Linked DNA regions of Homo sapiens: region 2 is linked to region 1. A link means that fine-mapping ties the variant in region 1 to the expression of a gene that starts in the linked region. Tissue or cell type: whole blood. Region 1 holds a variant in brackets; the other region holds the start of a gene. All regions are shown on one strand. Distances are between the middles of the regions.

Region 1 (5,229 bases):
AAAAGGGGGGAAAGAAGTTAATTTGGATTTTAAAATAATTCTGTGAGAAAAATGATGACAATTCTATCAAACGTCTAACTCATAAATCAACAAAAGCTTTAGTTTATTAAAATCTCCTACAGTAAGCTGAATAAGACTGAAAACAAGGAAGTCGTGAATTAAATTCATGATTAAGAATTATTTTTAGATCCCAAATTTTCTATACTAAACATTTATTACTTAAATGATCAGAAAAACATAAGAAAACATCAACACAAACTAACCCTGACCTATCTATAATTATAGTTATCAGAATAGTTTCCCTGTATTGACATTTTCTTCACTACTACTAGTTACATAATAGAAATAACTACTGGCTATTTCTAATTGTTAGTGCTACAAAGGGCACTTCAATTTCACTGATTTATATAAATCATACATGGCTTCTTAATGGAGACCTTCCTGTAAGTCAATATTTATCAAGTCAGTTTTATGAAAAGACACAGATTTATACTTAAGACAACATGTGGTGATTCTTGCTAAGGCAATATTTGGAATATCTAAATAGTTAATCATTATTCCTTATTTTATTAACATTAATCCAAGTTGATATTTTAAGATCTATTCCACTTTACAGTATTCATCTATCAAGTTTTCTATAAGCTTCTTACTGAGCTGAAAGCTCCATTTATATGTCCTAGGGGATGAATTCGGATGTTTTTCTCTGTGTTTATCTTTCTCTCCATCTTTGATGTGCGGGGATATTCTTGCAGGAGATCGTGCAAGTTTCTGTGGCTTAGATACATTAAGATGCTTTACTGGGGTACATTTACTTGAATTGTCTAGGACAGGAAGATCTTCACTATCACTGCTTTGTCCTATAAATAATAAAAAAGATTGACTCAGATTATAAATAAAATTCTTAAATATCAAAATGCAACAGACCTAACAATTACATTTCTTGGTATCCTACAGAAATAAGTGCACAAATGCACAAAGTTTATAACAATATAAAAACAACAAAAAAACAAAAAAACCTAAATGCTCACCAACGGGGAAATGGTTAAAAATGATAAACTATTGAATACTTTCCTAAAGTTGTTAAAAAGAATGAGCTAGAGTTCCTAAGAATAAAAATGGCAAAATATCTAGTATAATACTGTTAAATGAAAATGCAGTTATAAAACAATATAGTATTGCTCCATTTATGTTTAAAACAAGCCAACAAACTGCTAAAAATACTAACACTATACAAAAGCTAGCATTGAAAGACACCAACCTGTTCCATTCTTTTCATTTTTGGCTGCAGCACTTGTTCGCTTTGGGGTACGCTTTTGCTTTTTTGCCATTAATCCACTATTTCCATCACTTGGCCTCTTCTGACCTGAAATAAGGGGAAAGAGAGAATGTTGAAAAAAAAAAAAAAAAAAAAAAGAGCAAGTATATTATTCAACAGACTACACTGACATTTCTTTCTTTTTAATAAGAAAAGAAGAGAGAAAAGAAAAAGAAAGTACTTTACAGATCAACAGTACCTGAAACTCAACAGTTTTGATTTTTGGTTTCATATAAACACTTACTTTTCCCTAGAAAGTCCTTACCCTTCTCTCTGCTCTCTCTCTCTTGTACAATTATACTACAGGTACCAGAGGCAACATTAGTTTCAAATCCATTTGCCGATTCCCTCTCACAGAGACCTTCTTGAGATTCTTCAGCAATACTATCAACTTCAATCGTTATATCACTCTCACTTTTTACGCTTCGAGACTCATCTTGACTAAGAGTAAGTGGTGAAGCTACTGAAAAGTTATGTTGGACTACAGGAGGTAGGGCAGGTGGAATAGAAACAAGAGAGTTAGACTCAGAGCTTTCAACTGCTACATCCTCAATGCTGGTCTTATCCTTTTCATCCAAATCATCCAAATCTACTTCATGGCAAACCAAGGTTTCAGGCCCGATCAGAGGCATTGCATCCTCATCTTCTTTTAGTGGAATATTTACAGTTTCTTCAGCTGGACTATCAAATCTTTCACTAGTCAGTTGTTGGATGCATTGGTTTGACTCTGCTATCAATGATGGCATTCCTTCATTTTCTCTTTCAAAGTGCTGTTCAAAATTTAAGTTTTTCATTCCCTCAGATCCAATACAATCACTGGTCCTTTCTTGAGATACAGTATTTGTCATTTCCATTCCATTCTCAATTCTTATTTTTTTCTCTGGCGATGATTGTCCTAGTATTTTCCGTTTCAACTTCTTTTCTTTCACACATTGGTCAATTTCATCTTCTGTAGCAGAAGAAAAGTTTTTATTGTCTAATGAAGACAATTCAAGACTATGAGCTTCTATATGAGGTTCACTTCCTGCTTCATTCTGGCCAAATGATGAAATCTTTATAATTTCTAAAGAAAGATCTTTTGTCTTGCTTCGTCTTCCCTTTCCTTTTGGAGATTTTTCGGCTTCTTTCTTAACTTCTTCTGTTTTTTCCATTTTGTTCCCAAAAATCTGTACTATTTGTTCATTCTCTCCAACTTCTAACTTCAGGGTTTCTAAAGGCTGCATTTGAGTCCTATCATTTTCTTTTAATATATGTGCAGAAATCTTTGGATTTTCTTCATCTAGCTTATCATCATTCAAATTTTCATTTTTTTCTAGTTCATCTTTAAGAGAAAGTTCTTCATTTATTAAATTCTTTTCTAAAGCATCTTCTGTTTCACTATCAGATGAACAAGAGTCTGTAAGAGGAAATATTATTATATTATACAGGTTTTTATATTACCAATGTAATTTTACAATAAAAATCTTACCAAAAATAACAATAAAAATCTTTAATCATGTACCTCTGAATACCTCCCTGTAGAAATTTCTGAAATAAAACAAATCATAACATTTGTGCCAAGAATTTGAGGGGGAGGGGAAACTAAGCTCCAAGCAAAAATATATTACGTTGCATATTACTAACTCAAATCTATATGAAAAGCTATTTTGCAACATTCCCCAGTATCATATTTAGGTACAATAGTCCTTAAAAAAGATCAAAAGATTAGTACCTAGACATCCTAGACATGAAGTTAATTTGTTAAGTGGTTTGAGATAGTATCTAGGAAGGACAG[A/G]TGATGGGCATTTTGTACCCTAAGAAAGGAATATGACATTCTACTTAAAATAACTGTGGAAAGAAAAGGTTTTTTCTTTTCTTTTCTTTTTTTTTTGAGACATAGTCTCACTTGGTTGCCCAGGCTAGAGTGCAGTGGCGTGATCTCAGCTCACTGCAAGCTCCGCCTCCTGGATTCAAGCATTTCTCCTGCCTCAGCCTCCTGAGGAGCTGGGATAGGCGCAGGCCACCACGCCCGGCTAATTTTTGTATTTTAGTAGAGATGGGGTTTTGCTATGTTGGCCAGGCTGGTCTCAAACTCCTGACCTCAAGTGATCCGCCCACCTCAGCCTCCCAAAGTGCTGGGATTATAGGCATGAGCCACCGTGCCCAGCAAGAAAAGTTTTTAAAATGGGCAATTGGAATCCTCAAAACTTTAAATATTCTTAACAGACAAGAAAGTACAGGAAACAAAAATTGTTCCCTGTAAGGGAACTTGTAAAATAGTAAAGTAGGGTTCTAAGACTGTATAGGATCTAAAAAATATAAAAATATTGTCCACATGGTGCTCAAATCCTCAAGAAGTTCAAAACTGCAAACATGAATTTTTTAGTGAAAAGGTGTATACAGTTTTATTTTGTGGTTTTATCATAAACAGAATGTAGAATTCATTTTCATGTTTTAAAAAATCCCTTTCAGTGGTAGTTTAATAAGGCTGGTATGTAGTTGTATAGACTGGACACTGCACACAGGTATGCCTTCTAAGAGGGTACCTTTCACTTTGTGGACATCTTAAACATTTGTCAGCAGATGGCAGTAAAGAGGAAGGATGTCCTTTTATAATTTGCACACAAGCACCATATGGACTAATAGCAAACATGTAGTTCAGTATAGCTTTTTTCTTGAAAGAAGAGAAATTTTTATATAAGACAACCATTTAAAATTTCTTTTTTGGTGGCCGGGCACAGTGGCTCACACCTGTAATTCCAGCACTTCAGGACGCTGAGGCGGGTACATCACTTGAGGTCAAGAGTGCGAGACCAGCGTGGCTAACATAGTAAAACCCTATTGCTGCTAAAAATACAAAAATTAGCCAGGTATGGTGGTGCACACCTGTGGTCCCAGCTACTTGGGAGACTGAGGTGGGAAAACTGCTTGAACCCAGGAGGTGGAGGTTGCAGGGAGCTGAGATTGCGCCACTATACTCCAGCCTGGGCAACAGAGTGAGGTGGGGTCTTGCTCTGCTACCCAGGCTGGAGTGCAGTGATGTGATTACACTTGCTGCAGCCTTGACCTCCCAGACTCAAGCAATCCTCCCACCTCAGCCTCCTGAGTAGCTGGGACCACAGGTGCACACCACCATGCCTGGCTAATTTTTAAATTTTTTTGTAAAGATGGGGTCTCACTATGTTGCCCTGGCTGGTCTGGAACTCCTGGGCTCAAGTGATCCTTTTGCCTCAGCCTCCCAAGGTGCTGGGATTACAGGCATGAACCACTGCACTCAGCCTAAAATTTCTTAATTACATTTAAAAGTATACAGAGGTAGAAAAGTGGGGGAAACGAGTACAAGCAGAATAAAATATGTTCACCTATACTCATTATAAAACATGCCTGCACCACAGTAGTCTGTGTTCTCTTAGAACCACATGGTCTCAGCTTTGCTGAAAGATCCCAGATGAACAGCATTGAATTTATAGGATACACTGGTACAGGCTTTGAGGGAAAGTGTAGCACACATTAGGATGCATGGATTGTCAATTCACCTTCTATTAAAATATATTATTTTCAAGATACTTATGAGAAAAAGTATTCCTAAATGAAAACATCACTAAATTTTAGATAAAAATGATACAGCAAAATATTTTCTTCAAATCAAATTTTATAGTTTAAATCATATGAGATTAAAATCCTAGGTGATTTACAGGTTGAACACCCCTAGTCCAAAAACCTGAAATCCAAAATGCTGCAAATTCCACAACTTTTTGGGCACCAACATGACACCACAAGTAAAAAATTCCAGACCTGACCTCATGGGACACATTGCATCCAAACACAGGTGCACAACAGTTTCTTCAGCAACCCCAAGCTAGTGTACGGGTAACCTTTTAATGAAAACACAGCATCGTAGGTGGAGACTGAAAGCCTGCTGTTTGTTTTTGCTG
Region 2 (5,229 bases), 66 kb after region 1:
AATGATACATAGAAAGATGTAAGAAATGTCACTCTACCACTCATTTTAATTTTTACAGTAACAGGATGATTGCTATCTCAATCTGTCATTTTACCTTTTTTTTTTTTTTCCGGAAGTTAAAGTGTATCCATACAAGTTCAACTTAACATTGTTAAGTGCAAAGTTAACAGTGTACACTTTGGAGATACGTTTTGAAGTAGAAAATGATTTTTTGTTTTCTAATAAGTTTTCCCAAGTAATATTAAAGAAGGTTAAATATGTCATTTACTTCGAGAAAATAGAAAACCACGAGAAAGTTTGGGAAAATGCTATATTTCAGAGCTTAATATGCTGAAACAGTAAATAAGACAGGAATTGGGTACCTTTTAAAGTAAGTGCATTTACAAAAAATACAAATTGAATAGGAATGCTTTTGGCAAACAAAAATCTGACCTGAAACATTCAATGGCCACAGCATTCAAGAACGCTATATGAGATCCTTTCCCTTTAACCATCCACATACTGATATTTGCAGTCATCCTCAGTAGAATATGTATCTTTTTAGTATATGTTTTAAAATACTTATTGGAAAGATTTAACTAAAACTATTATTATACTTCAACTTCAAATATTTTAGCCACATAAGTTCATTTTACACACAGAAGAAATGATACCTTCATTACTTAATCCACGTATTCTTTCTTTTAGAAAATCGCATTGGCACACGGGAAGAAAAAAAATTTACAAAAAATCCCCCAAAGAACCAAAGCAGGACAAAAGCTTTACTTCTGCAAAGGTTGCTGCCAACACAGGAAGTGTTTAAAAATACTATCCGAATGGACAACAATTGAAAGGCTGCACCAGCCTTTCCAAAGTACTGCTACAGAGAGGGCCTAAACTCCGCATTTAGACACACAGATCATTTTTCACCCATTCAACACATCCTCCTATGCCGAAACTGCTGATCAGTAGGAACATCAATTTTGAGTAGCAAAACAAATGACATTCCACGGCACTAGCCTTAGGATTGGCAGTGTTCAGGGCGCGAGGATCGGGGCAGAGTTGACTCCACTTACCTTCATTTTTGTTGGTGATCTGTGGGGTTCCAGCTCAGCGAGCTATCTTCGCAGTCGCTAGAACTATGGGGAGGGGGAAAGACAGGCACAGACATAATCAGTCAACTGCGGGGAGCGACCAAGGGAAAGAAAGTAAACAAACGCCAGCGGGGAGGGGCAGAATCCTCACCAGCCAAGGGACAAGACCCCTTACGAGGGCAGCCAGGACGCAGGAGCTGAGGGGGCAGCGAGAACCCCACGAGCGCCAAAGGGCAGCCCGTTCCGCCCCGGAGCTCGCCAGCGGCCCACCGCGCCCCCGCCTCGCTGGCCACTTTGACCCGGAATGCTCAACTCGGAGCTCCAGGACAGATAGCTCCGGAAAAGGCCAGAGCTCCCTTCGGGCTTCCCCAGGTCCCCCGCGGAGACGACCGCCGAGCCTCCGCTCCGCGGTCCCCCGGATACCCCGACTTCGGCCCGCGCCCCGCCTCCGCCGCTCGGCCCCCTCGGCCCGCCCCGGGCCCGCGGTGGCGGCAGCGGAGTGTCACGGCGCCATTGCTCTCCTTCCTTCGCTCTGCACCATGTCAGAAAGGAGAAGCGCTCCTTCACCCAAAGGGGCAGGGGCCGCGGCCTTCAGCCGGGAGCCGCCAGAGCCCCGGGGGACCCGCGTGGGGGAGGGGGCGGGGGGCGGAGGGGAGGAGGAGGGGAGGTGGCCCGGACAGGGTGTGGGAGGGGAGGGGAGCCGCACCGCAGCAGCCGCTGCCTCCTCCCAGCGCCCGCCTCAACTTTTTGTACAGCCCAGAGAGGTATCAGCTCGTAGCCCCTCGAGTCCTGCCACGGACTCCGCAGAGGTGGACGCGCCGCGGAGTTGGGGGACGGCTCCCCCAAGCAGCCCGCTCTTCACCGCGCGGAAGCAAACTTAGCGGCGCGGCCAGCCCCACAGCCATTTTCCCGGGAACCCGAGGAAGCGGACGAGGAGGCGGCTGCAACTGCGGCGGCGGTTCCTGCAGTTGCTGCCGCTGGTCAATGGCTGGCCCCTTCCCTTGCGCTCGCCGTGCCACTTGCCTAGCATCCCTCTCCCCACCTCCAAAGCTTCCAACTGCACCGGGACCTCGGGCAGCAGCAGCTGCTGCTACTGCCACTTCGTCCATTCAGTATCCCCGGATTCCCCTCTCCCCACCTACCAACTGCGGGTGAAGTGCGCGCTGTCAGCTCCAGAGTCCTCCTCCCCTCTGACCTCCGTGGGCCCCCGTCCGGGCAGCACCACTCCCAGCCGCGGCTGCAGTTCCTGCGCCGGGTTCCCCACTCGCCCCGATTTACTGCCACAATCCACCAAATAACAAGCTGTTGAGCAGACTCGCTTCTACACGAACTCCTATTGGCTGCTCATGACGCCGAAGAGCTTCGGATAGGACCTCGCTACCTGCCGTCCTCATTGGATGTAGCTGTGAAACTTCATGGATTGGTGAGAAAAACAGCAGGTAGGACATCTTCCACTTATGATTGGCTTTTTCCGAAAACCAACTTTATTGGAGAGTTGGTTATTGAGTAAGCAAGTCCTGAGAAATGATTGGTAGAGACGACTCCGGATGTGCTTGACTGGGCACTGATTGGTGAATTGAGGGGTCAGGAAGAGCAGTTCGACACGAGGATTGGCGGCGGAGTGTCCCATGGAAACGGAACCCAGAATTGCAGCCAGGGGCTTGCACGGGGGCGGGGCAGGGTCTGTCCAAGGCGCTTGCGCTAAACCAGCTTGTCGGCGCCATTTTGTCTCGGCAGCGGTGGCCGTAGCTCCATCGCATTTTATGTTTCTGGCGAGAAGGGAACGGAGTTTTCATCAGGTAGATTGGTTTTTGTGCGGCCGTCCTCCACCGTTTCCTCCAGGACAGCACCTAGTCGTGGCCGGAGGAGTCTCAGAGCTGTCAGAAAGGTCAGTTGGAGGCTATGGTTGTCCGATTGACTGGGGGGATGGCGCAGCCCTAGCGGCACCGGCACCGGAAGTGAAGGGGCCGCAGGCAGCCATGGTAAACTTCTCCCTGCGGCGGGGTGGGGAGAAGGGGCGGGATGAATGGGGGCGAGGCTTCCTCTCCCGCCGAGATAAAGAGGTGGAGGAGAGGCAAACGTCTTTCTTGGAGGTTCTCTTTCGGGTTTTCGAGAATGTGAGAGATTTTCTGGGTTCTGTCCCACTGCAATCTTTCCTGTCTTTGGAAGTGCATTTCGGGGACTTGCCATGTTCTCCACCTGATTGGCACCAGCTGTGGGAGCCTTCTTAGTTAAGACAGGGAAGAAGTGGTTCTTAGAAACATCCTGCATGGGTAGAGGTTTCCGCGTGCTCCTCACGGGATAAAGCTATGAGGAAACTGGAGAAAGCGCTGGCTTTCTGGATGCTGAGGAATTTACTTGCCAGCGCAGACGCTTCTTCTGTGACCTTAGACAAGGGTCTGTCACTCTGCACGAGGCTTATGCTACTTTTTGAAAGCAAACAGTGGTTTTGCAGGGACTGAAAACATCTTAGACAAAAGGACGTCCCCGATAAGATAGACGTTGATCTTTTTCTGTTAACATCTTATATTCTGTTAAACGAAACACACATTTTTAAATAGCGGAATTGGAGTATAAAATTGACTAGTTTTATAGAATGGAGTAATTTTTAAAATGTGACATATCGTCAGTAATCCACGTGGACTAAATTTTCTCAGTAAGAAAACAGCCGAGCAGAATCAGTTTTTTATTCGTAACAGTAATTTTGCTCAAAAGTATTCATAAAAACGTGAAATGCATGTTGGCATTTCTAGTGAGTGACCTAGTCACACTGGATAGATCCTAATAGTTACCCTCAATACCTCTGTTTTAAACCCTACTGCTATATTGGTGGCGCCCATAACTAGAAAATGATTGTGTGACTTAACAATTACTGGGTTTTTTGGCAGTTGTGCTGAAGAAAACAGAACATCTCAGTGATTACTGAGGTGAGTCATAAAGTCTAAAAATCCTTAGAATTGCGGGGGACTACCTGGAAAAACTTTCTATGGATTAGTAAAGAAATACCAGAATGGGAGGAAGGGTAGTTAAAAGATGTTTTGTTTGGTCAGATTCAAATGAGTCTGTATAATTAGCTTTCTAGTGTAATATTTTAGAATGAAATCCCAAAATTAGGACATCCTTATGGACTTGTTTACCCATTTACGTGGTTCTCATTTCTGGACTTTGATATACCTCATGTTTTTGTTATAAAACATTATGCGTATTTTTGTGATTTCCTCCCCCCCACCCGCCTATTTAAAAAGTTCTTATATAGAAAAGATCTTGTAAATGGGAGTGTTTAGGAGTGAGGCTTTTTTTTTTTTTTTTTTTTTTTTTTTGGAGACAGAGTCTCTCTCTGTCATCGAGGCTGGAGTGCAGTGGCGCAATCTCGTAGGAGTGAAGCAGTTTTTTAAAAGACCTTATAAAACAATATATTACTGAATTTTCTAGGGGGTAAGCATCCATAATTCTACGATCAAAGTTTAAACTGTTATTATTGAATCCAAATAATGCATGGACATTTGGAAATTATTAAAAAGCCCAAAGAAGAATACAAAAATGTCTTCCCTCCTCCAAAAGGTAGTTACGGTTTACACTATAGTTATATATTATACAAAAGGCTTTGTCTTTTTTGTTGGTTTTGTTTTACCAAATATTCTAGTGTTGTTCATTACCGTCTATTCTTTATAGAAAACATTGGGAATATTGGAAATATCTTATCGTAAAGCATCTTTTATGTCTTCATAGTGTTTTGTGGGATAAATATATCATAATTTATGTAACGTGTTTATTTTTCTATAATGGCAGTAATATGTCAGTGAATATCCTTGTACATGTTTTGCAAAATATTGTGTCTAAGAAGGTCGTTGCAAAAGTAATCGTGGTTTTTGCATTATTGGAATTTGCCATTTGATGTTGGACTACGTTGTTAAATAAATGTGGTTATGTTATACATCATTTTAATGGGCATTTCTCGCTTTGTTCTTTTGGTAATGACTTATTACTCTCTGTTTATTTCATGTTTATTTTATTTTATTTTTGAGACAGAGTCACGCTCTGTCGCCAGGCTGAAGTCAGTGGCACCATCTCGGCTCACTACAACCTCTGCCTCCCAGGTTCAAGCAATTCTTCTGCCTCAGCCTCCCGAGTAGCTGGGACTACAGGCGCGTGCCAC

The links. PIP is the estimated chance that this variant, and not a neighbour inherited with it, causes the effect.
Region 2: it holds the start of ARID4A, and the variant in region 1 is fine-mapped to the expression of ARID4A in whole blood (INTERVAL, PIP 0.94).

What each region holds. Positions count from the first base shown.
Region 1 is chr14:58,361,652-58,366,880 of GRCh38, reverse strand. It overlaps ARID4A (AT-rich interaction domain 4A), which reads right to left. Exons shown (of 24, transcript NM_002892.4): 20 at 1,581-2,711; 21 at 1,259-1,363; 22 at 651-857. Among named protein-coding and RNA genes, the nearest start is that of TOMM20L-DT, 31 kb to the left of the region's middle. The variant A/G (reference allele first, on the strand shown) is at 3,090.
Region 2 is chr14:58,295,687-58,300,915 of GRCh38, reverse strand. ARID4A (AT-rich interaction domain 4A) reads right to left here and starts at 2,361. Exons shown (of 24, transcript NM_002892.4): 1 at 2,216-2,361; 2 at 1,056-1,118. The coding sequence starts at 1,061. It overlaps PSMA3-AS1 (PSMA3 antisense RNA 1), which reads left to right and starts at 2,779. Exons shown (of 4, transcript NR_029435.1): 1 at 2,779-2,961. RefSeq lists a silencer at 1,272-1,791 and enhancers at 2,422-2,511, 2,622-2,671, 2,692-3,111, 2,408-3,131.